Linked DNA regions of Homo sapiens: all the other regions are linked to region 1. The links come from fine-mapping of genetic effects on gene expression. A gene starts in region 1. Each other region holds a variant in brackets. All regions are shown on one strand. Distances are between the middles of the regions.

Region 1 (4,087 bases):
AGCGAGTACCTGGAGCGTGGAACCAACTTACTTCTGCGCATGCCCCATGTCCTTTCCACCCCACCTCCAGCTGGCCTGCACATGAGTGGGGACCTTGGCCTATTCAGCCCAGGCAAGTTCAGTGATGCTCCTCAAAGCTGCTGGTGGCATGGAGCTGGGTAAACTCCTGACATCCTTAGTGGGACAGCAGCTCTGGCTTCTCATTGAACTTGGGGGCAGTTTGGTGAAGTTGACAAGTGTCTACATATCCAGGGGCATCTGTGCTCACTTGTCCCCCACAGACCTTGGCCTTGGGTGTATTTTCTTCTTCCTTTTCTGTGTGTCTGTGTGTGCTGCCCTCTTCTAGGCTCTGGAACTAGCTGATGGCCAGCTGGACTAAGTGTGTCAGTGTCCACACACCTCTGGCATGTCCCAATACCCCCCTACAGTCCTGAGGCTTAGGCTAAGCCTTTGGCATTGGCTAAATCAGTGGTGACCCACAAGTCACATATTTTCTGAGCAGTTGAGAAAGGGAGACAACATCCTAAAACCAGAGATTCAGGAACAAAGGGCCACTCACTTCGTCTTCACTTTCTACTCAAGACAATAGAGGTTATAACAGTAATTAAAAACAATTTTTTTTTAATTGAGATGGAATCTTGCTCTTGTCCAGGCTGGAGTGCAGTGGTGCAATCATAGCTCACTGCAACCTTGAACTCTTGGGCTCAAGCAATCCTCTTGCCTCAGCCTCCCAAGTACCTGGGACTACAGGTGCATGCCACCATGCCTGGCTAATTTATTTTTATTTTTTGTAGAGATGGAGTTGCCCAGGCTGGTTTTCAAACTCCTGGGTTCAAATAATCCTCCTTCTTTAGCCTTCCAAAGTGCTGGGATCACAGGTGTGAGCCACTGTGTCTGGCTGTGATTTTTAAATATGAGAAAAGTGGGTCAGCCAGGAGATCAGAATCTGAGGTTGGGTCATGGGAACCAGCCCTAGAGTCTTAGCTAGACCTCAGAAGTCAGGATCCCAGCCTCACACCCACAAGCATGGCCAGAAAGCAAGGATAATTTAAATATATTTGTTCCTATCAACCAAGGCAATTGTTTCTTGATATTTGTGTAAAAAATTTAAATTCTACTCTCAAGGGTATTTGTCACTCAGGCTTTAAATGCCAGCTTTGTCTGCCCAGTTTAGACCCAGCCTGCATTCCTGACTTAGTTTACCCAAAGGAAACGGCTGATTTTGTCAAACTTGGTTCCCCCTCTCTGGCTTGTATCTCTGAATTCAACATGCAGACAACAAATCTATGGTGTGCACATCCACCCAACACAACTGGCCACCCATGGGTTTGGAGATGGGGGGAACAGAACAAACCTCTCTGTGTCATGCAAACCAGGGAACCTAGCAGAGCTTCTGAGACACGGTGGGAACACGTTTCACATTTGGAGGTAGGTTTATGGTTTACATTTGTTACAAGGTACTTTTGATCTCCTGGCTTACAACTGAGAAAGCTGAGGCCACGTTAAGGGATACACCCAAGTTCCCACAGCTGTGGTTGATTTGGAATTCCGACCAGCACCTGGGATTCCCAGGCCCACGTTCTTCCCAGCAGACCCGAACACCGGCAATTTCTGGGCACCCACCATCATGGAAGGCTGTATGGAGGCAGCTATGCGGCCCTGGTCTGTCAGTGTCTATGACTAGAACATGCTACCCATCATTGACTCATCTGCCTTAAGAACTCTTCCGCCTAAGTGTTAATATTTATCATTTACAGCCCGCCACTACCCCCTTTCAAAGGTGAACACAGTAAAATTTATGACAGGTGCTCTATCAGAACACAGAGGAACATAAAAGCAGGAGGAGGTGTGATAGCCCATCCATCTGCTGGAGCAGCTCTTCCAGAGGCCCGAGTCACCTGGAGCATTCTGGCATGGGGCTGCGGCCAGGCATTTTCCTCCTGGAGCTGCTGCTGCTTCTGGGGCAAGGTAAGCGTGCCTTTTGCTCAGAGGACAACCAGTGGTTTAGCCCCGCTGGTGTCCCATGTTGCTTAGGCAATGGGTGTGTGAGAGGAGTGTGTGCTTTTGAAGAGATAAAGCACAAAGCGTACAGTTCAAGAATAAGAAGTCTGGTTTGCCTCCTGCGGAATGGGATGCAGAGGCTGCCTACACAGGGTTACATGTCCCAAAGGCTGCCGGGAGCGAGGCAGATCTTGGGACAGGAGAGAAGTGCAGTCCGGTAGCAGTACCATGGTACAAAAAAAACCCCTGGATTCTATTTGTTTGTGCTTTGTGGCTTTGGGCAAGTTCTTCCACCTCCCTGGACCTTGATTTTTTTCATCCTTAAAATGGAAATACTACTACTATGCACATTTTGATCATTACTATTACCATTTATGAGCTTTGTTTTGTTTTTGAAGGACAAAGGAAGACAGATTTCCAGATGATAAATTCTAAAAGATTGCCTACATTCTTTAGTGCTGCTAAACAGAGTGCTGAGCTTTCATTGAACTGAGTGGGCAACCAGCCAGGGCTTTCCATTCCCCCCAACATTAATGACTGTGGGTAGATTGTGCCTCTGCCACAATCCCTCTCTGCCCCTCTTCTTCCCATCATTGGCTCTCCCTTTGCTTAGGAAGGCAGAATCTTTTAAACTGAAAAGGGCCTTAAAGATCTTTCATCTTCTCCAGATGAGAGGACGGGGTCTGGAGTGAGAAGGCACTTGCCCTTGACTCCCCAGAGAGAGTGGAGGAGGCATGGGACAGAGTCCTGGGCCTGCCTAGGGTCTGAGCCCATGCTTGAGGCTTCTCTGGGGCAAGTCAGTTACCGCTCTGAGCCGTGGGGGAGAATGACGATGCTTGCTATGCCTTCTGCACAGGATGATTGTATTTCTTTGATTACTGATGAGGCCAAGGAGTGTTTTCATAGAGATTGTTTGAGTTTCTCTTTTGTGAAGTGCCTGTTGAAGTCTTTTTCCTATTGATTTTTTAGGAGTTCTCCATATATGCTGTGTACTAGCTCTTTGGAGGTTACATATATGACAAATATCTTGTTCCACTCTGAAGCTTGTCCTCCTATGGGGACTTTTGATGAGCAAAATTCTTAATTTTGTGTAAATAAATGTAGACTACCCAAATGAGGACAAACAGAGGCTACTTATTCAGAGCTCGCTGTAGCGAGACATCACTTATGTTTGGCCAAGATTCAAAGGCAGGCAGGGGAGTGGGAAAGTTTCACAGTGGAAAAAAGGGAAATCTTCAGATCTGCTCTGGTTGGAGGTTGTTGGTATCAGGGACCAGCTGACTAGAGGCACGGCATCTGAAGTTATCCAGTTGGGAGTGTATCTGGCTTTCTCTGAGGGGTCCTGAGTTGGAAGCAGAGCAAAAAATAGAGAAGATGGCAGTCATTAACCAAACCTGACCATTCTGGGCTGATTGCTGCAGAGGCTGCAGTTTGGTTCTCTGGCCTGGCCGATTGCAGACTGTGGCTCAGAGTTCTGTTATCATATGTGGTCCCACCGTTGTCCATTTGTATATTCTCTATTTTTTTTTTTTTTGAGACAGAGTCTGGCTGTGTCACCCAGGCTGGAGTGCAGTGGCTTGGTCTCAGCTTACCGCAACCTCTGCCCTCCAGGTTCAAGCAATTCCCCTGCCTCAGCCTCCTGAGTAGCTGGGATTACAGGTGCCTGCCGCCGTGCCTGGCTAATTTTTGTATTTTTAGTAGAGACAGGGTTTCACCATGTTGGCCAGGCTGGTCTCAAACTCCTAATCTTAAGTGATCTGCCTGCCTCGGCCTCCCAGAGAGCTGGGATTACAGGTGTGAGCCACCGTGCCCGGCCTTTATTCTTAAGTATATGTATTTTAAATCTTCCTTTATGGTTTGTGCTCTTTGTATCTTAAATAACTCCTCTCCTACCTCGAGGTCATGAAGATATCTTATATTTCCTTCTAAAAGCTTTATAAATTTACTTTTCTCGTTTAAGTCAATCACCCTACATCTGGGATTGACTTTTATGAATAGTATATGAGAGGAACCCAATGTTGTTATTATTATTTCTTTTTGAGATAGAGTCTCACTCTGTCACCTAGGCTGGAGGGCAGTGGTGCAA
Region 2 (4,087 bases), 53 kb after region 1:
CCAGCACTTTGGGAGTCCGAGGCAGGAGGAATGCTTAAGGCCAGGAATTTGAGAACAGCCTGGGCAACATGGCAAAAACCCTGCCTCTACTACAATACAAGAAATTAGCTGGGTATGGTGTCACACACCTATAGTCCCAGCTACTCGGGAAGCTGAGGTGGGAGAATCACCGGAGCTCAGGAAGTCAAGGCTGCAATGAACTGTGATCGCACCACTGCACTCCAATCTGAGCAATGAGAATGAGACCCTGTCTCCAAAAAAAAAAAAAAGAAAAAAAAAAAATTGGGGAAGAGAAGGTGGCAAGACAGATCAGCACCTGGCCCTCACCCAGGCCTGCTCAATACTTCCTTTGACAGCCGCCTTGAATGTTCCAGGTGGGACCTTGTTTCTAGGAGCGGCCACCATCAGAATAAAACAGAAAGAAGCGTGGAGTCCATTTCCTCTCCTAGGCCTTGAGCTAGAGAGTTGCCACTCCTTTTCCAAATGTTCAGCTAATTATACCTCCTTATCTGATTCTCTTTCAGTCTGGCTGAAGAGCCAATTCCACTAAGGGTAAAGTTCTTTTCTTGTTTCTTGCTTATTGGGGCACAGATGCTGGGGTAAGATACCGCTGAGGAATCTGAAAATCCTCATGGAGGTTGGTAGAAGCTGTGACTGAGCCAGACAGGCTGCCCCATCCAGTAGCTTCCCACGTTCCTTGGCAGAGTCATTGGAAGGGGAGGTGAGGGCCAGAGGTACGACCAGAGCCCAGCACCTGTGGGCAGCCAGATGACAGTAAAACTGGTTCTCCAACAGTAGGAAATAGCCCGTGCAGAAGAAAATCTGCAATCCCTCCAAGCTATTGCATTTTTCTTTGTAAGTGTTTATATATGTATAATGAACATTTAAAAATAACAAAAACAACTTTTAAAAAAAATCCCTCCTTCCCTCTAATTCTTTAACGGCCTTCACTTCCCTATGTCTAATGCTTTACTAAGTTGATAATCTGCTGGTTTCTCCTGCTGTTATACTATAAATGTTTTATCTACGTTATTAGATGTCATTTGATGGCCTTCGTGGTTGTCATTTAAGTAGCTGCCTATTTCACAGCGGATACCACACCACCCACTCCTGGCTCACTAGATACTCTAGCGGTTTGTGAGTGTTGGCTGTGCTGTGTTCCATGTCACTGTATTTGTGACCCCGTGAAAGACATGAGACTTGACCCAGGCCCCATAACTTGCTTCACTCAAAGCTGTGAAAGCAGTTCTCAGGGAACAGAGGGTTTCCATTCTCTATTGTGCGCAGATTTACCTACATTTGGGTTGTGGACACAGGCTGCGGGGAGGACTTGGGAAAGAATACATGCTTTATGTAAAAAGCGATGCATTTGCCCTTCCTTCCCATACTGGCTCTCCTGTCTAAGGGAACTTGAATCAGTGAGCCAGAAAGTAGCTGGGCAGCAAGGAGGGGACAAGAAGCCAAGCTGGATAACCGGCCCCCACGTGATCAGAAAGCTGTGTGACCCATTGCTAGATGTTTGGTTGGATGCAGGACACCAATGTTGGAGTCCCAGCTCTGTCCTGGCTGGCTGGGCCCCACCTCAACCTCTGCTGTGCAGCTTTTCCTTCTAGGAGAGGTAGACTAGGAAGTCCCTTCTATATATATATATATAAAACCGATGCTGCTTCTCATGCTGTGGTTCTCAAACTCGGGTGTGCATCAGAATCGCCTGGAGAGCTGCTTACAACACAGACTGCTGCCCCAGCCCCAGAGTCTCAGACTCAGTAGTTTGGGGATGGGGGCTGGACACGTGCATTTCTAATGCGTTCCCTGGTACTGCTGCTGGACTAATGAGTCTTTCTCACTGGTGACTTGGCAGGCTGCTACCTGCACAAAACTTCCCTGTTCTAAAGCCCACGTTCCTTTCTAGATGGAGCCAGCAGGAGAGAAAGATGAGCCATTGAGTGTAAAACACGGGAGGCCAATGAAGTGTCCCTCTCAGGTAGGAGGGACTGGGCAGAGGAGGGACTCTTATTGAATCGAGGGCGCAGGTGGGGTGGCCAAGTGGGCTTTGCTGTGAAGTGGGTCTTACCTGAGATGTGAATCCTGTTTCTGTTCTTCTGGGCCTGCACACAGTTTTGCATACATAGCAGCCCTAATGTTTACAGTTGTGGGCCATGAGAGCTGTTCTAGCAAAACTGCAGCCCCCTCCATGCCTGTGGAAGGCATAGGAACAAGGCCACAGCTCAC[C/G]TGGCCCCAAATGCTGCCTCTGGGTCCTGGCCCTCTGCCCCAGATGCCATTTCCAGACCTTCCTCTACCTCAGAGTGGCAAAGAAGGGAGGGATGGTGAGTATCTAAGTACCTGAAAAGTGGATCATTTTGACTACATCTTAAATATGTGCCTAGTATGTAGTAGGCTTATAATTAATGTTTCCAAATAAGTGGATGAGAAAATAACTGGACATAAATGAATGAGATTCTTTCTTTTTTTTTTTTTTTTTTTTTTGAGACGGAGTCTCGCCCTGTTGCCAGGCTGGAGTGCAGTGGCACAATCTTGGCTCACTGCAACCTCTGCCTCCCGGGTTCAAGCGATTCTCCTGCCTCAGCCTCCCAAGTGGCTGGGACTACAGGCACGTGCCACCACACCCAGCTAATTTTTTTGTATTTTTAGTCTTTCTATCATTTAATGCTAGTCAAGTATTTGGCTTTCTTGATGAATTGGTAAGTTTTTTGTTACTATGCAATAATAAGTATACAATTCACCTTCTTGCACTTTTTGCTTTGGCTGCCAAGAAGCTTAAAATTAGATTCCCTTCTCATCAAAATATATATACTTAGCCTGGTAGCATGAACCCCCAGGGTAAAGAGCAAGAGAGACTGGCTATCACAAATGGGAAATGTCAACGCATTCATGAGTCCTTCAGGGACCAGAGAGAAGAGCCAGAGAATGGTTTGGTCCTCACTGGAAGCGTGATGTGAATGTTCCTAGTTGGCCAAAAGCATCACTGGATGCTGAAGCCTGATAATTAAGGGATACAGACTTCTAGGGTCACGATTCCAACATGTCACCTTTCCCTGCAGGAGAGCCCCTATCTGTTCAGCTACAGAAACAGCAACTACCTGACCAGACTGCAGAAACCCCAAGACAAGCTTGAGGTAAGGAAAGGTTTTCTGTAATTGACAAACATGCAGATGAACCAGGGGCTGTACTTCTTGCTGAATCTTTCGAACCTTCCACGTGGTTTTTTTTTTTTTTTCTTTTGAGATGGAGTCTCACTCTGTTGCCCAGGCTGGAGTTCAGTGGTGCCATCTCGGCTCACTGCCACCTCCACCTCCTGGGTTCAAGCAGTTCTCCTGCCTCAGCTTCCTGAGTAGCTGGGGCTACAGGCGCACACCACCATGCCTGGCTAATTTTTGTATTTTTTTTAGTGGAGACGGGGTTTCACCATGTTAGCCAGGCTGGTCTTGAAATCCTGACCTCAAGCAATCTGCCTGCCTCAGCCTCCCGAAGTGCTGGGATTACAGATGTGAGCCACGGCGCCCAGCCTGGATTATTTTAAAGCAGATCAACTGGCCAGATTTGCAACCTCAATACAATTTTTTTTTTTTTTTTTTGGTGGGAGGAGGGCGGGGACAGAATCTCGCTATGTCATCCAGGCTGGAGTGCAATGGTGTGATCTCAGCTCACTGTAACCTTAGCCTCCTGGGTTCAAGCGATTCTCCTGCCTCAGCCTCCTGAGTAGCTGGGATTATAGGCGCGCAACACCACACCCGGCTATTTTTTTGTATTTTTAGTAGAGACAGGGTTTCACCATGTTGGCCAGGCTGGTCTCGAACTCCTGACCTCATGGTCCACCCAACTCAGCCTCCCAAAGTGCTGAGGTGACAGATGTGAGCCACTACGCCCAGCCATTCCATGTGGTTCTTAACATCCTGGAACTCCCGCTGCCCCTAGGCATATGGAGGTCTGCTACTAACCGCTGATGTTCAGTCAGGACAGGCTGGGGGAGGGAGAAGGATCCAGCATGTGGCCATCCCCTGGGTGCCTGGAAGCAGGTCTCCCCCACAGTTCATCTTCCGAGCTGCCTCCGCAACCAGCATGGGAG
Region 3 (4,087 bases), 23 kb before region 1:
GGATCTGCCTCCCTCATGTGGCCACCACAGTGTTCTCAGGGATGAACTGCCTAGAAAGGCTTGTCCCAGGCTGAAGGTCCAGCTGGCAGAGCCCAGGGAGAAGCCCAAGGGCACCCATCATGCCAGCGAAGAGAGCAAGAGGCCAGCTGTGAGGGTGACAGGAAGAGGGAGAAAGGAGTTTGTGAACGGTTCAGGTAGGAGATGACCCTTTATCGATTTGGTTGTGGGGATGGAGAAGGGTGAGGTGTGATAAAAGCTGCAGTGCAATGCTTGGATCCTTCCCACAGCCCCCGCCCTGGCCAGGATGTGCTGTGTGTCTGTGTATCCAGGCATCCTAGTTAGGGCTGAAGGGACCCTCCTCGGGGAACATGTTCCTACAGGATGACATCTGTCCAATGTGGTTTTGGACCTGTGGTGCTGGCTGGTCCTGGGCCCAGGTCTGTGGGCCTGGATGGAATGAAGCAGCCACACCTGTGTCACCCCATCTCTGGGAAGCCCCACCCCACCTGGTCAGACATGCCAGGCCAACCCCATACCCATCTTGTCATACCTGAGCTCCATGCCGCTGCCCCAGCTCCTCCAGCAAGGGCACATCACCCTTTCAAGGCCTCCTCCAATCTCCCCTCCCCAGGCAGCTGCCCCCAGAGTCCCACTTGCACTTGGTGCCTCTGTGTACATTTCCATGCACTTTCCTGTTATGTTTCTAGACTTTATTATTTTCTGAGTACGTTCATCTTATCTCTCCAGAGATGATGAGATCCTTGAGGGCAGGCATCACATCTTGTCTCTTTTTTGTCTTCCACATAACACCTAAAATGGGTTTGGCTCACTGAAGGCCCAACACTCACAGAATGTTGAATGAATAGGAATTTCCTTCCACCCACACATGGGCCCTGTGGCTTTGGGGGTGTGACCCCAAAACATGCCCATGGGATGTGGTGAGATATAAGTGAAGACAGGGGCCCAGGGAGGATATAAGTGAAGACAGGGGCAGGGACGTCTCCTCCATGATGGTGCTCTGGAATGATGCTCAGCAGGGGAGGGACCTTGGTGATGATCTCTTCCTCTTTACTGATGGACAAATAAAAGTCCCAGTGAGAGGTGACAGCGTGCTGGCAGCCCTGGCAGCCCTCAGCTCATTCTTGGTGCCTCCTTGGCCTTGGTGCCCACTCTGGCCACGCTTGAGGAGCCCTTCAGCCTGCCGCTGCACTGTGAGAGCCCCTTCCTGGGATGGCCGAGGCCGGAGCTGGCTCCCTCAGCCTGCAGGGAGGTGTGGAGGGAGAGGCATGGGCGGGAACCCGGGCTGCACGGCGCTTGTGGGCCAGCTAGAATTCTGGGTGGGCGTGGGCTTGGCGGGCCCCGCTGGCCCCGGGCAGTGAGGGGCTTAGCACCTGGGCCAGCAGCTGCTGTGCTCAATTTCTCTCCGGGCCTTAGCTTCCTCCCTGCAGGGCAGGGCTCGGGACATGCAGCCCGCCATGCCTGAGCCTCGCCACTCCCCCACCATGGGCTCCTGCGTGGCCTGAGCCTCCCCATCGAGCACCGCCCCTTGCTCCATGGCACCCAGTCCCATTGACCGCCCAAGGGCTGAGGAGTGTGGGCACATGGCG[C/T]GGGACTGGCAGGCAGCTCCACCTGCGGCCCCAGTGCAGGATCCACTGGGTGAAGCCAGCTGGGCTCCTGAGTCTGGTGGGGACTTGGAGAATCTTTATGTCTAGCTAAGGGATTGTAAATACACCAATCAGCACTCTATATCTAGCTCAAGGTTTGTAAACACACCAATCAGCACCCTGTGTCTAGCTCAGGGTTTGTGAATGCGCCAATCAGCACTCTGTATCTAGTTAATCTGGTGGGGACTTGGAGAACCTTTATGTCTAGTTAAGGGATTGTGAAGGCACCAATCAGCACTCTGTATCTAGCTCAAGGTTTGTAAATGCACCAATCAGCACTCTGTGTCTAGCTCAGGGTTTGTAAATACACGAATTGACACTCTGTATCTGGCTAATCTAGTGGGGACCGTGGAGAACTTTTGTGTCTAGCTCAGGGATTGTAAATGCACCAATCAGCACCCTGTCAAAACAGACCAATCAGCTCTCTGTAAAATGGACCAATCAGCAGGATGTGGGTGGGGCCAGATAAGAGAATAAAAGCAGGCTGCCCAACCCAGCAGTGGCAACCTGCTGGGGTCCCCTTCCACACTGTGGAAGCTTTGTTCTTTCGCTCTTTGCAATAAATCTTGCTACTGCTCACTCTTTGGGTCCACACTGCCTTTATGAGCTGTAACACTCACCGTGAAGGTCTGCAGCTTCACTCCTGAAGCCAGCAAGACGACGAAGCCACTGGGAGGAAGGAACAACTCCAGACATGCTGCCTTAAGAGCTGTAACACTCACCGCAAAGGTCTGCAGCTTCACTCCTGAGTCAGCGAGACCATGAACCCACCAGAAGGAAGAAACTCCGAACACATCCGAACATCAGAAGGAACAAACTCCGGACACGCCGCCTTTAAGAACTGTAACACTCACCGCGAGGGTCCGCGGCTTCATTCCTGAAGTCAGTGAGACCAAGAACCCACCAATTCCAGACACACCAGAGTGGTGGCTGGGCACATTGGCTCATGCCTATAATCCCAGCACTTTGGGAGGCCAAGGTGGGAGGGTCACATGAGACCAGGAGTTCAAGACCAGCTTGAGCAAAACATAGCAAGAGCCCATCTCTAAAAAAAAAAAATTTTTTTTAATTAGCCAGGCATGATGGTGTGTGCCTGTAGTACCAGTTACGCTGGAGGCTGAGGCGGGAGAATCACTTGAGCCCAGGCTCAAGGCTGCAGTGCGTTGATGGTGCCACTGCACTCCAGCCTGGATGACAGAGTGAGACTCTGTCTCTTAAAAAAAAAAATTCCAGATTGGAAATAGGTGCCCAGGGACACTGAGCTGAGGCTCTAGGGATCCCACTAAGGTCAGCAATTTTTATTTTATTTTTATTTATTGAGAAAACCCAATTTTCCAGGCCTCATATCCTTGACTTTTCAGCAGTATTCTCTATTTTAAAAACATACTTCTCTCCCTGACACAAACCTTTTACTTCTCCAATCAGTTTTTCCTCTGTCTGCACTGTAGGATTTTTTCTTATCTGCCCAGCTATTAAATATCATTAAGAGTTCCCCAGGCCCTTCCCTTCCCCCTTGTTCTCTCTCCTAGCAGGCTCTGCTGCCACAGCTTGAGTGACTGCATCTGACTCTTAGCCACTCTGGCCCAGAGTTCTCATCTGAGTTTCTGATCCATGGGTCTACCTGCCCCTCCGGCATCTCTTGAGTGTGTGTCCTAAAGGCACTGCATGCTGCTTGTGTCCACATCTGCATTGATGATTTCCCTCTGCATTCTTCCAAAATTCCCATGCCCAGTGATCCCTATGCAGGGAATGAAGTGCATCCATTCCAGTGCAAAGGTCAGAGATCTTTCGTTACCTACACACATCATCCATCAGTTTCACTTCCTGAACATCTCCTTACCCACTGTGTCTGGAATTGGTTCCTGCTGGTGGGTTCGTGGTCTGGCCGACTTCAAGAATGAAGCCGGGGACCTTCGCAGTGAGTGTTACAGCTCTTAAAGATGGCACAGACCCAAAGAGTGAGCGGTAGCAAGGTTTATTGTGAAGAGTGAAAGAACAAAGCTTCCACAGCATGGAAGGGGACCCAAGTGGGTTGCTGCTGCTGGCTGGGGTGGCCAGCTTTTATTCCCTTATTGTCCCCTCCTATGTTCCATTTCTGTCCTATCAGAGTGCCTTTTTTCAATCCTCCCCGTGATTGGCTACTTTTAGAATCCTTTCCCTTATTGGCCCCAAACTGGTGCTTTAGCTGCAAAGTGCTGATTGGTGTGTTTTACAGAGCGCTGATTGGTGCATTTTATGGAGTGCTGATTGGTGCATTTTACAATCCTCTTGTGAGACAGGGAAGTTCCCTAAGTCCCCACTCAACCCCGGAAGTCCAGCTGGCCTCACCTCCCACCACCTTCCTCCTTCTCCACCACCATGAGCCTCCTTCAGCTCTGGCTTGGAGAGTGACAGCCTCCTGACTGGGCTCCTGGCTCTGTCCT
Region 4 (4,087 bases), 100 kb after region 1:
GTAAAGAAACAGCTCTCTCATCTTCAAATCCTGGATTCGGTAGGGAACCAATATGTTAGGGGCTTAAAAATTTTCTCAGAATTCCTCAAACTCAGAGATGGGTCTGGCCCATCTCAAAGGTGCCGATGGGCACTAAGAAGGGTGGGGGCTGCTCTTGTGTAAAGTTCCTAGATTGATTCAACCAATATGTCTCTCCCTCTCATTCACTGGCTTGCTCACTCCCTACAGTGCAGGAGGGGACGGCTCCCTGGAGAATGTGACCACCTTACCTAGTAAGTAACCATCAGGGGCTTGAATCTGTCTACTGTTCCACCCATCTGGCCCCTTGGCTTCCCGAAAGTGCCTCCCAGGTAAGCAGCAAATGACATCTGCCTTATGGCCCAGCATTTAAGTAGGAGACAGGAGGCTATGAAAAAGCAGCCGAGGCAGGTAAAATAAACACCAGATTTAGAGCCTGAAGATCTGAGTTCAATCCCTGGTGCTTCAATCCCTGGTGCTGGGTTCAATCTCCGATGTGCTTGTCAGGTGACCTAGGGCAAGTTACCCGCTATTTTTAGCCTCAGGCTTTTCCAACAGGCCCAGGAGGTGCTGAGACAAATTAGGTAGTGACCCTTCAATGCACTGTGAATTGTATTAATACAATTTAATACAAGAGTGAGAGGCTCTTGCCACCCTGGCCCACCTAGTCATCAGGTCATGTCAACTTAGGGTGGTCCCAGCTTATGTCCAGGACACACACTGCCTCCCTGCCTCTCCCCAGGAAGCATGAGGATGATAACACAGCCCACTTTGGGGACCTAGGTCCCACAGTACCAGAGAAGCTATTCTGGCTTTCTGTTCTGAGCCGTCTGCATCCCATTCACCTTCTCTTCCAGATATCCTTCGGGAGTTTAACAGAAACCTCACAGGCTACGCCGTGGGCACGGGTGATGCCAATGACACGAATGCATTCCTCAATCAAGCTGTTCCCGGAGCAAAGGCTGAGTATGGCATTTGGGGAGGGAGGGAGCCTGCAGAGCAGGGAGTGGAATGTGGATAGTACCCTTTAAGACCATGGGGCTGGCCTCTATGTGCAAAGGGGCACTTAGCCACTTGTGAGGCTCAGGCTGCCCTCTTCCCTGCTGCCCCTGTGACGAAGGTTGTAATAGGCCAGAGAGGCTGTGGCCTTGGAGAGATGCGATGCCCCTATAGGTTCAACTCCTGACCTTGCCTTCATGTGCAGCATGTTCTCATAATTGGACGAATCGACTAACCTTATCCAATGTTTACAACTCACCAAGGCACAACAGTGCTAGAGAGATCCACTCCCCGCAGAACCTCACAAGTGGCAATTTCCCAAAAAGATCAGAGAGGGCCAACCAAATGGATGGGGCAAGCCTTCTGGCCCTAGAGGCATCTGGAGCAAAGAGTCATGTCCCCTCCCTAGCCCCATTATGGAGCTAACAAGAAATGGAATGGAGAAGCCCAGAGGTACCCAAAGAAGAGCAACTGCCCAGCCTCCTGGGGTGGGCTCCAAAGGGGCCCCCACCCTGCTCCTAGAGGCCCCAGCAGCCTAGGTCTTCTTGCTCTATGCAGCTCCTGGCTCAGCCATCTGAGCCTCTGTCACATGTCATCTTCTTGCTCAGGCCCACACCTTCTGGTTGAGGGGTGTGGCCCCCAGACCCACTCCCTCAGCCTGGAAAGACTCTTGGTAATAGAAACAGCTGGGGACAGATGGTCCCACCACCGTGTCCTAGGAGATCACCTTGCTATGGATCCATCCCACCCAGGTCTATAACGGGGCCCTGAACAAGTGGAAGTGGGGAGCACAGACGCCTGAAATCTATTCCTTCCATAAATTATAATTTTGGCCTTTTTTTAGATAGAGTCTCATTCTATCACTCAGGCTGGAATGCAGTGGCACAATCTCTGCTCACGGTAACCTCCGCCTCCCAGGTTCAAGTGATTCTTGTGCCTCAGCCTCCGAGTAGCTGGGATTACAGGCTTCTACCATCA[C/T]GCCCAGCTAATTTTTGTATTTTTAGTAGAGATAGGATTTCACCTGTTGGCCAGGCTGGTCTCAAACTCCTGACCTCAAGTGATCCACCCACCTTGCCTCCCAAAGTACTTGGATTACAGGCATGAGCCACTGCACCTGGCCTTTTTTTGTTTTTAAGATGGGGTTTCACTCTGTCACCTAGGCTGAGTGCTATGGCATGATCTCAGTTCACTGCAACCTTCACCTCCCAGGTTTAAGCAATCATCCCACCTCAGCCTCCCTAGTAGTTGGGACTACAGGCATGTACCACTATACCTGGCTAATTTTTCTGTAATTTTTGTAGAGATGGGGTTTTACCATGTTGCCCAGGTTGGTCTCAACCTCCTGGACTCAAGCAATCCACCCACCTCAGCCTCCCAAAGTGCTGGGATTACAGGCGTGAGCCACCAGGCCTGCCACCTTCCATAAATTATAAACCCAAGCATGTGTAGAGCACATATGATTCCCTACCTCTTTTTGAAAGAACCATTTAGATAAGTTTACAAACAAAAGAATATACGTAAGAGAAAAATCGCAGCCATTGGAGGAAATAAAGAGGAAGCCTGTGTGTCGATATGAACATTTTTACGGTTATTATGTTTGAGCATCAAACTCAGCTTCCTGGCAGCCAGAGTGAAAAGAGGAAGCATGCTAGAAGTTTCATAGGTCTAATTTTAGGATCTAAACTAGTCTTCCAAAGGAGATGAATGGTCTCTTAGCATGGAATCCTAAAGGCCCTTTTGCATGTGGAGTCCCAGAAAGGTGACCATGAGCAACAAATATAATTGGCAGTACTTTGACTACAGCTGTAGGACAAACACATCATTGGCTTTTCAAATGATTATCTGTTGTAATAACTTTCCAGAAGAGGCAAGTCACTCCTGGTTTCTGAGCCTCGGGATCTCTGCCAGCTCATGCAGTGGGGATGATACTGTAGAAGCCTCTGGTTCAGGCCCTCTAGGAGGAAAACTATGGGCACTGTTCCTCAACAGAAGGATGGGTTTTCTCTCTTTCTCAGGGATCTTATGAGCCAAGTCCAAACTCTGATGCAGAAGATGAAAGATGATCATGTGAGTCAGATTTACTGTTATTTCTAAACATTAATTTTCTAACCCACTAAAGTTGTCTCCAAACGGAGTGGCCTGCTCTGAAAAGCAGTGAGCCCCATGTTATTAGAGGCATTCAAGCAGTGGTCGGACAGCCCCCTGACAGAGGTCCTGTGGAGGAGGGTATGTCAATGGAGAGAGCTTTGTTGCTGGGTACAGCGACACTGAAAATCCCTCCTGATGCTAAGAGTCTGTGGTCTATAAATAAACCTCTAAAATTCCTTCAGTTCAGAGATGCTGATTCCATTATTTCAAGTGGGCAAGGATGTTATAGAGGGTTGAATGGATTTCCTAGGGCAGGGATATTTTCATTTCCTTGTTGGAAATTATCAAGCATTTTCCTCCCTCCATATAGAGAGTAAATTTCCATGAAGACTGGAAGGTCATCACAGTGCTGATCGGAGGCAGCGATTTATGTGACTACTGCACAGATTCGGTAATTGGGGCCAGGTCCAGGCCTACTTGTTGTTCCTAACTTTGCCCAGTAGGCGTTGGAGATCTTCCCTGAGAACAGTTCCTAAAACCAATCCTAGGATTATCCACCTACACCTATGTCTGCACATATACACATACCACACACACACACACACACACACACACACACTTCTTACCCCACCACCCTCCAGGTCCTTGGCACCATCTCCATGTCCTAGGTGGTGAGGTAGCAGGTGGCAGATATATGGTATTTCTACTCCTCTCTCTTATAACTCCTGAGAATTCAGAAAGAGGAAACTGTAGCAAGCAATTGGAAGGAGGAGTCTCCACTTTCTGCTCCTGAACCAAAGCTCTGGCTGAAGGTTCCAGTCTTCCCACTGGCCCATCTTTGACAACAGCAAGTAGTCAACTGTTCATCTCAGATTTTGACATGGTGAGCTGGCCACAGCTGGAGGCTAGAGGGGGAACAAGTCCTCAGGGCTGGAGCCAGAAGGGAAGTTGAGAACTGCCCCACTGCCCTCCCACCCTAACC
Region 5 (4,087 bases), 290 kb after region 1:
TATTTTATTTGTCAGAAATTCTATGTATTTATGATGTACAACATGATGTTTTGAAGTATATATACATTGCAGAATGGTTAAATCCCGCTGATTTAACATATGCATTACCTCAAAAAGTTAGCATTTTGGGAGAAAACAACACTTAAAATTTACTCTTAGCATTTTACAAAGATACAATATAGTGTTAACTGTAGTCACTGTTATACAATCGATCTTCTGTATTTATTCCTACTACCCAACTGATACTTTGTATTCTTTGACCAACATCTTCCCATCCCACCCCTACCCCCAGCACAATCTTTGAAGTCTTGGTAACTTTACTGAAGGTATTGAATGTTTATTGTAGTTGTTGCCTTTTTGAAAGTACGTAAATAACATCTTTGCATTGTAGAAAAAGTTCTTCTTTATAGATAAACATGAAGAAATGAAGAAAATTGAAATCATTCATAATCCTGCGGCTTTGAGATAACTGATGAGAACAGTTTTAGATTTTTTAATTTATTCTATCTGTTCTTTTTACAGGCAAACGAAGATTTAATATTAAATTGTGGAAGACCTTCACTGATTGTTTTAACTGTCTGCCTATAGCAGCCATTGTGGATGAGAAGATCTTCTGTTGTCATGGAGGTAGACTAGTAAATTTGCCTTACAGATTTTTTTTTTCTTCTATTATTCGGAAAATACCTATAATAATCAAGAGGCTGTGGGAAAACAAAGCAGTGCTTGTATGAAAACTCAAGTGATTAAAACTGTTTTAAACATGGCTAAACCTCTTTTAAAAATTAGAAATTTATTTATAAATGAAAACGTAATGCTTCTTTAAATACAGTTTCACATATAAGGAGTGTAACTAGAGTTGTTTGAGAAAGTCTCCTTTGCCTCAAGTTTTAACAGAAAGACACCCCTGCTATTTATTAGTAAAAATGAGAGGATATCTTCCTGCCTATATTGAAATCTTTCATCAGAATCCAAATAAAATTGAGTTTCATATTCACATATATCAAGAATTCTAGGCTTCATATAATATATTTGCTTTAGTATTAACAATAAAATAATAAAATAATCTTTGGCAGATTGGTAGGTTACTCTGTATGGCTTATGAAATAAGCTTGAAGTTTTTTGAAAGTTTATTTGAAAAATTAATGTATATGTCTAACACCTAGCTAGTAGATAGTGTATGATCTGACCATCTTGAAGAGTTAAAAACCTGTTGCTAAGATACATTTATGAAACAGATAATTGAGTAATAAAAGGTATTTAATATGTCAGAACTTATTAAGACACTATGAGAAGTCAGGAGGAGGAAAGACTGGGTACATGTGTGTATGGAGGCATGGGTTTTAGAGGATAAATAGGCTTTGGAGAAGTTAAAAGGACTTGAGACACTCTTTGTTGTCTAGTTTAGGGAATGTGTAAGAACTGGCCTGACTAGAAGGTCAAGTACATGCTGGGAAATGATGGAATCAGATTATGGAGATTTGACTATTGAGCAACGGAGTTTGTTGAGTGATTTAATAACCGTATTGGGTTTTTGTACAGGGAAGTAATTTAATGGAAATAGTGTAAGAAAATTAGTTTTTCATCAATATACGGGAAGAATTAAAGTGGAAAAACGCTGAAAAGATAGATGCACTTGCCTAGGCCC[G/A]AGGTAATAAATGGTTTATTCTCTGGCAGAACATAATTCACTATATTAATTGAAATATGTTTTCCAGTAGACATTAAACACGTAATGAATTGTAGTTCTTGTACATTAGTGTAGCTAAGGATAGAAGTGTAGCAGTATGGATACGAATGTTTAGCTTCATTCCTTGTGATGATACTTGGATTGCCTATCAGAGAGAAATAATAGCTTATATACCACTTCAAAGATTGCAGAGTATTTTTATGAGCTTTTCCTGTTAATCCTTCTGATCAATAGTTTATGACTTCATGAAGATAATGAACATGTTGGAGTGGGATGTGAAAAGAAGGTCTTAGGGAACCAAGTGAGGCACTTTCACTTAGAAGTTAAAATGTTTAAGATTAGTGGTAAGAACTGGCAAAAGTGGTAGGAAGGGTTGCAGTTGATTATGTTTCTATGAAGGCCAGGGAATGATTGGAAAAAAGAATGGTAGTTTTTTTTTTCCTTGGGAAGTCTTTTGAAATATAAAGGAATTTCATTTCCCTGGTAGGGAAAAATGGAAAAAAACAATTATAATGCTGTATTATATCAAAGTGGAATTCCTAATAACTCTGTGTTGCCCTTTAAGACATTAAAAGGGGCAGGGCGCGGTGGCCCACGCCTGTAATCTCAGCACTTTGGGAGGCCAAGGTGGTTGGATCATGAGGTCAAGAGATCGAGACCAGCCTGGCCAACATGGTGAAACCCCGTCTCTACTAAAAATACAAAAAATTAGCTGGATGTGGTGGCGCGCGTCTGTAGTCCCAGCTACTCGGGAGACTGAGGCAGGAGAATCGCTCGAACCCGGGAGGTGGAGGTTGCAGTGAGCTGAGATCACGCTACTGCACTGCAGCCTGGGTGACAGAGTAAGATTCTGTCTCGAAAAAAAAAAAAGACGTTAAAAGGAACACTTTTCAGTATCTTTAATTTCACATAGTGAATCTATTTTGATTAAATGCTTTTTATTCGGTGACTGTTAAAATATTAAAATTTTTAGCTGTTAGTACTATGTCTCATCTTTTTATTTATAGGATTGTCACCAGACCTGCAATCTATGGAGCAGATTCGGAGAATTATGAGACCTACTGATGTCCCTGATACAGGTAAGTGTAGAGAGAAGTTTAATTGTTTTGTGTAAAGTGTTTTCATATTTGAACTTGATTACATTTAGTGGAAGTAGGATTGGCTTATGTAATAAATAAAAGAGCTTTTTTCATAGTCAATAAGCCAGCTACAGATTACTTTATTTGCAGTAATACACAATTTTTCACTTTGCACTGATCCTCAAAATGCGGAACCTTTTTATTTATAGTCATAATGTAGTTATTTGATCACAAAAAAGATTTTGCTGTTGAGTCCTTATACCTATTTTTCTAAATTCCCTCATTCATACTAGCATTGGTTATGTTCTTCAAAAATTTGTTAAATTAGACAAAAGTTTTTTAATTAAAATAATCTATTCTTTGCTTCTTAGGCAAGGATACAACTACCTTCTTTTCAAATGTCTAGTAGTTTTTTGTTATTTTCTATGTCCTCTATTTGAAATTTTTAGAGCTTTTTTTCAAGGGGGTGTGGGAGGGATTTCAATCTGTTGCCCAGGCTGGCCTTGAATTCCTAGGCTCAAGCAATCCTCCTGCCTCTTCTGAGTAGCTAGGGGACTCCAGGCATGTGCCATACCTGGCTTAAATTTTTAGAGCTCTTAAGGCTCTAGAGACCTGTGGTCAGTTTTGTGAAAATTACATTGGAAATCTCTGGGAAGGCTGGGAGCAGTGGCACTCACGCCTGTAGTCCCAGCGCTTTGGGAGGCTGAGGTGGGCAGGATCACTTGAGGTCGGGAGTTCCAGACCAGCCTGGCCAACGTGATGAAACCCCATCTCTACTAAAAATAACAAAAATTAGCTGGGCATGGTGGTGCGTTCCTGTAATCCTAGCTACTCAAGAGGCTGAGGCACGAGAATTGCTTGAACCTGGGAGACAGAGGTTGCAGTGAGCCGAGATCACACCACTGCACTCCAGCCTGGGTGACAGAGTGAAACTGTCTCAAAAAAAAAAAAAAAAAGAAAAAAGAAACAACAATCACCACAAAAAATGCTGCTCAGAACTACACATCAACCATTATAAATGGTATAGATCCTCTGATGTCAGTAGCCATGTAATACACTGTATGTTGTAATAAATTGTGTTAGGAGCTTTTTTTTTTTTTTTTTTTTTTTTTTTTGAGACAGAGTCTTGCCCTGTCACCAGGCTGGGGGGCAGTGGTGCAACCTCGGCTCACTGCAAGCTCTGCATCCCGGGTTCAAGTGATTCTTCTGCCTCAGCCTCCCGAGTAGCTGGGACTACAGGCGCCCGCCACCACACCCGGCCAATTTTTTGTATTTTTAGTAGAGATGGGGTTTCACCATGTTGGCCAGGATGGTCTCGATCTCT
Region 6 (4,087 bases), 110 kb after region 1:
CACACTGGAGATGCCCTCACCTCCTGGTCTGGCCCACATGCAGTGGTGATGCCTCAGGGTCTTTGTGACTTGGTCTATCCATGTGTCCAAGTCTGTAAAGGAGGACTTCTGCCAGAACGTCCCCTTCCAGAGGCTGGAGCCATGACTCCCCTGTTACCCAACTTCAAGGTGCCTGGCAGGAACTTCTATGATACCAGGCAGCCACAGAGGGGAGGGATCAAAGTTGGGACAGAGGCTGGTGTTTGAGAGACAGGATAGCCTAGACTGTGAACATGGGCAGTGGTTAGGGAAGTAGACATATGTGGTCAAACTGTAACAGAAAGCAAGGAAAAGGTACAAGCAACTCAGTTACCTTTAGGGGAAGAAGAGAATTAGGAGGGACACAGGGAGCTTCAAACTGGGAGTGTTTTGTTTCTTAAACTGGGCCATAAGTACATGGATGTGTGTTTTATTATTCTTTATATCTTACACATCTATTTACTCAGCAAATCTTACAGAACTTCCTGTGTACCAGGCATTGTTTCAAGTGCTTTAGAAATCTCTCTCTTAAGTAGATGTGATGGGTGTGAAATAATTCATGATGAAACCAAAGGGGACACAGTAGGGCACTCATGTGAAAGAAGGAGAGGTCTAAGGCATAGCATCAGAGGCCCCAAAATATCAGCTCCAACACCAGAGGATGCATTTTCTTTTTAATTAAACACTAAATTTTCACTGCCCAAATTCATTTGCTCAGCTGAATAATCGGTTGCAGGCCCAGCACCTGCAGTCCAACACTTGTGCTCTGTTGGTATGAGAGGGTGCTCATTCCCACACTGGCTCCCTCCCTCGGGCCATCTCCAGTGCCCCTGCCAGGCCTGAAGCCTGCCCCTGAGCATGTGCGCCAGAGCCTCAAGGCTTGAGTGCTCCTAAACCAGGGCGGGAGGGAGCCTCTCCACCCCTCCCCTGAACCTGGGCAATCAGAACCAGCCCCTGATGGAAGCCTGAGCTCTGGGGCCTCCTGCCTCCCCCTCTTTGTGCAGCGTTTTGTGTAACTGCGTTCTGACCCTGCGGGAGAACTCCCAAGAGCTAGCCAGGCTGGAGGCCTTCAGCCGAGCCTACCGGGTAAGACCAAGAAGGGCACCATGCTGTGTCCTCTCCCCTACGTTCACTCTAACACACAGCCCAGAGCCCCTAGAGGAGGCACACAGGGAAGGAAAAGCTGGTCAGGGATTGTGGGGAGACGGGGAGCAGCCTGGGTGCCTTCCTCTGTCTCACGTGACTGTGGTGTCTCAGGTGCCCTGGTTGGAATCATCCCAGTAGGATCCAGGTGGAAAAGCCCTCATGGCCCAGCTACCGTTGAGGGCTTAACCCCAACTCCTGGCCCGTAGCCCTGGATGCCTCATGAGACCACCTTTCCCTCCCCCACTCCCACTCCAAAGGCAGGTGCCGAGCCTCTGGAGGTTCTTCCCAGGTTTTTATCCCTTTTGGGACTTCCTGCCTAGCCCTTCAGAGAGAGTAGTCTACTTACAATCAAAACAAAAAGGTGACCCAACCTGTTTCCAAATTCTCTGGAAAGGGACTTGCCCTCAGGTGATTTGTGTTCTCAAGGGAAAGGCTGAGTCGGCCCCTCCATCCAGGGAGATGGACTGCCCACCACCCCTACTCTTGCCTCACTGGGTCCTGGGCCCACCCAGGGCCTGGGCTGAAGACCCTGTGCATGTGTCCCCAGAGCAGCATGCGCGAGCTGGTGGGGTCAGGCCGCTATGACACGCAGGAGGACTTCTCTGTGGTGCTGCAGCCCTTCTTCCAGAACATCCAGCTCCCTGTCCTGG[C/T]GGTATGTCCCCTGCCCTCACCCATGGTACTCTTTTAGAGGAAGAAATGCAAGGCAGAATTGCCAGTTGCTTCCACGAGCATGTGCATAAAATGGGAAAGACACAGCTCTCCAGACGCTGTGCTGGCAGGTGCAGGCTCCCTGAACGCCTGAGCCACATCCGTATGTGCGAGGCTCCCATGACCCCTGTAACAGCCTCCATTGTGTTGAGCACCTACTAGTGCCAGGCACTGTGCTTCCCATAGATAAAACTGTCACATCTGCCTTTGGAAATGAGTGTGATCATCCGCATGGAACACAGGTGCAGAGATGTGAAGCGTCCTTCCTAAGATCATTTAGGAAATAAGGGACAGGGAGGCCAACATGAACACAGCCAGCTCCAGATGACTAGTTTTCTGCCACGCACGTGGTCTCTCTCGTGTGCAACGCTGCGGTTATAAGGGAGCATTCTGGGGGTTCTCTGTTTCCACCCAGGCCATGCCCTTTGCCTGGCACTTCCACTCTGAACAGAAGAGATCTGTGAGTGGACCAGGTGAGGACTGAGGTCTGTCCCCCTGGGCTGCCATCCCAAGAGCCTCACCTAACTGGAAAGCAGGAAGGAGAGCAGCTCTATGCACCCCCAGCACCTCCAGATGAAGAGGCTGGAGTCAGGGGACCCAACTACCCAGGCCTTCCCCAAGGCTTTGTTCCATTCTCCCCACCAAGACTACCAGGACCAGCAGACCAAAAGCTGGGAAGTAGCTTTTCCCAGCTGGCTGGGCTAAGACTCTCTGCGGGACCAGGATCCCACTCCTTCATCTGTGGCATGGCCTCGGGCATTACATGAATGTGCCCAAAAATAAATACGACACTTCTAATTGAATAAGGGGCACTTGTAGGGTCAAAAAGGAAGGTTGGGGGTTGGCGTCACCCAAAACTATTCTTTGTGGGATCGCTCTGATCTCTCTGTTAAGGTGAATGGGCCCTGTGGTGGCTGGTGACCTGGAGCACTCCAGGGGAAGGAAGGTGTTGAGTGGTCAGTCCCAGGGCCAAGTCCGCTGGTGGTGGCTCCCTCTGAACCAATAGGATCTTGAGGGGGTATATTGGTCTCTTTCAGGATGGGCTCCCAGATACGTCCTTCTTTGCCCCAGACTGCATCCACCCAAATCAGAAATTCCACTCCCAGCTGGCCAGAGCCCTTTGGACCAATATGGTAAAATAAGTGGGGTGTTCCTTGTTCTCTGGGGTTCTAGTCTAGGGCAGGGCACCAGCCCCTATAGAATGGAGTCTTGCAAGTGAGGCTGAGGGGGCAGTGGCTGGTACATCTATAAACGTCTATGCAGTTGGAAATGCGGAGTCCTTAAGAGTCTGCTCAGCCTGGGCTCAACTGCACCCTCTCCTCAGAGCTTTGAACTCTGAGGAGGGACCTCTCTACAGAAATGCAAGCCCAAAACCCCATATTCATTCCACTTTCCCTATGTGCCGGCCACCATGTTAGGCAGTTTAAGCCACGTTATCTCATTTAAGGCTCTGCATATCCCTGCTAGAGAAGCATGACGAGTCTCCAAGGAAGCTACTCCCAGAGAAGCAAAGCGACTGGCCCAAAACCCCACGGCTGGCAACTGGCAGAGCCAGAAGTGGGAGCCAAGCCCCCTGAAATCGAGTTCTGAGCTTTCCCCACTGCAGGATTCTGCCAGGGAATGTTCACTTCCATGGAAACAAACTACTACACCCGTGTCTCTCTTTTCTTCCCTGATCAGCTTGAACCACTTGGAAGCAAAACAGAGACCCTGGACCTGAGAGCAGAGATGCCCATCACCTGTCCCACTCAGGTAGTAGGGGAGGACCTGCCTGGCTCCTCTCCACAAACCAGGGCACACAGCTCGCCCTACCCACTTCGTCCTCCACCACAGCTTCCTCAGTACCCATCTTGCCCCCTTACTGAGGCCTGAGAGATTTGGAGGATGGAGGGGAGTCCATGAGGATGGACAGGGGAGGTGAGAGGGGAGACAAGAGTGCAGCTGTCATTGGGAACAGGAGATGCAGCAGGGAGAGGAGGCCTGGGCCCCAGCAGAGGGAGAGGATCCCGGTGAGAAAAGTGGGCTCCTGAGAGAGGAAATCAGGATGCCAGGAAAATGGCAGGAGGGCTTCTCTTAGCAGTGGTGTTTGGGGCAGATGAAAAAATCTGACTGCAGGTTAGAGGGCCCAGGCAGGAGCCAGGCAGGCTTAAGAGCTGTGGTTGGAGAGAGGAGAGCCTGGATTAGGGAGATTCCACAAGGAAAGGATCACAGAGGA

Evidence for each region. PIP is the estimated chance that this variant, and not a neighbour inherited with it, causes the effect. A credible set is the group of variants that fine-mapping cannot tell apart.
Region 2: its variant is the best candidate, but not a certain one, in a credible set for the expression of PLB1 in nasal epithelium (TOPMed, PIP 0.54).
Region 3: its variant is the best candidate, but not a certain one, in a credible set for the expression of PLB1 in whole blood (INTERVAL, PIP 0.78).
Region 4: its variant is the best candidate, but not a certain one, in a credible set for the expression of PLB1 in monocytes (TOPMed, PIP 0.57).
Region 5: its variant is the best candidate, but not a certain one, in a credible set for the expression of PLB1 in whole blood (INTERVAL, PIP 0.73).
Region 6: its variant is the best candidate, but not a certain one, in a credible set for the expression of PLB1 in monocytes (TOPMed, PIP 0.88).

What each region holds. Positions count from the first base shown.
Region 1 is chr2:28,494,202-28,498,288 of GRCh38, forward strand. PLB1 (phospholipase B1) reads left to right here and starts at 1,859. Exons shown (of 58, transcript NM_153021.5): 1 at 1,859-1,968. The coding sequence starts at 1,914.
Region 2 is chr2:28,546,948-28,551,034 of GRCh38, forward strand. PLB1 (phospholipase B1) reads left to right here. Exons shown (of 58, transcript NM_153021.5): 15 at 1,913-1,984; 16 at 3,063-3,137. Among named protein-coding and RNA genes, the nearest start is that of PLB1, 53 kb to the left of the region's middle. RefSeq lists an enhancer at 3,455-3,749 and a silencer at 3,511-3,711. The variant C/G (reference allele first, on the strand shown) is at 2,233.
Region 3 is chr2:28,471,420-28,475,506 of GRCh38, forward strand. No RefSeq gene overlaps it. Among named protein-coding and RNA genes, the nearest start is that of PLB1, 23 kb to the right of the region's middle. The variant C/T (reference allele first, on the strand shown) is at 1,608.
Region 4 is chr2:28,597,777-28,601,863 of GRCh38, forward strand. It overlaps PLB1 (phospholipase B1), which reads left to right. Exons shown (of 58, transcript NM_153021.5): 34 at 229-272; 35 at 876-984; 36 at 3,033-3,084; 37 at 3,476-3,556. Among named protein-coding and RNA genes, the nearest start is that of PLB1, 100 kb to the left of the region's middle. The variant C/T (reference allele first, on the strand shown) is at 1,996.
Region 5 is chr2:28,781,216-28,785,302 of GRCh38, forward strand. PPP1CB (protein phosphatase 1 catalytic subunit beta) reads left to right here. Exons shown (of 8, transcript NM_002709.3): 4 at 523-627; 5 at 2,692-2,763. Among named protein-coding and RNA genes, the nearest start is that of SPDYA, 28 kb to the right of the region's middle. The variant G/A (reference allele first, on the strand shown) is at 1,646.
Region 6 is chr2:28,602,944-28,607,030 of GRCh38, forward strand. It overlaps PLB1 (phospholipase B1), which reads left to right. Exons shown (of 58, transcript NM_153021.5): 40 at 1,023-1,104; 41 at 1,712-1,816; 42 at 2,910-3,005; 43 at 3,553-3,624. Among named protein-coding and RNA genes, the nearest start is that of PLB1, 110 kb to the left of the region's middle. RefSeq lists enhancers at 3,334-3,965, 3,966-4,087. The variant C/T (reference allele first, on the strand shown) is at 1,815.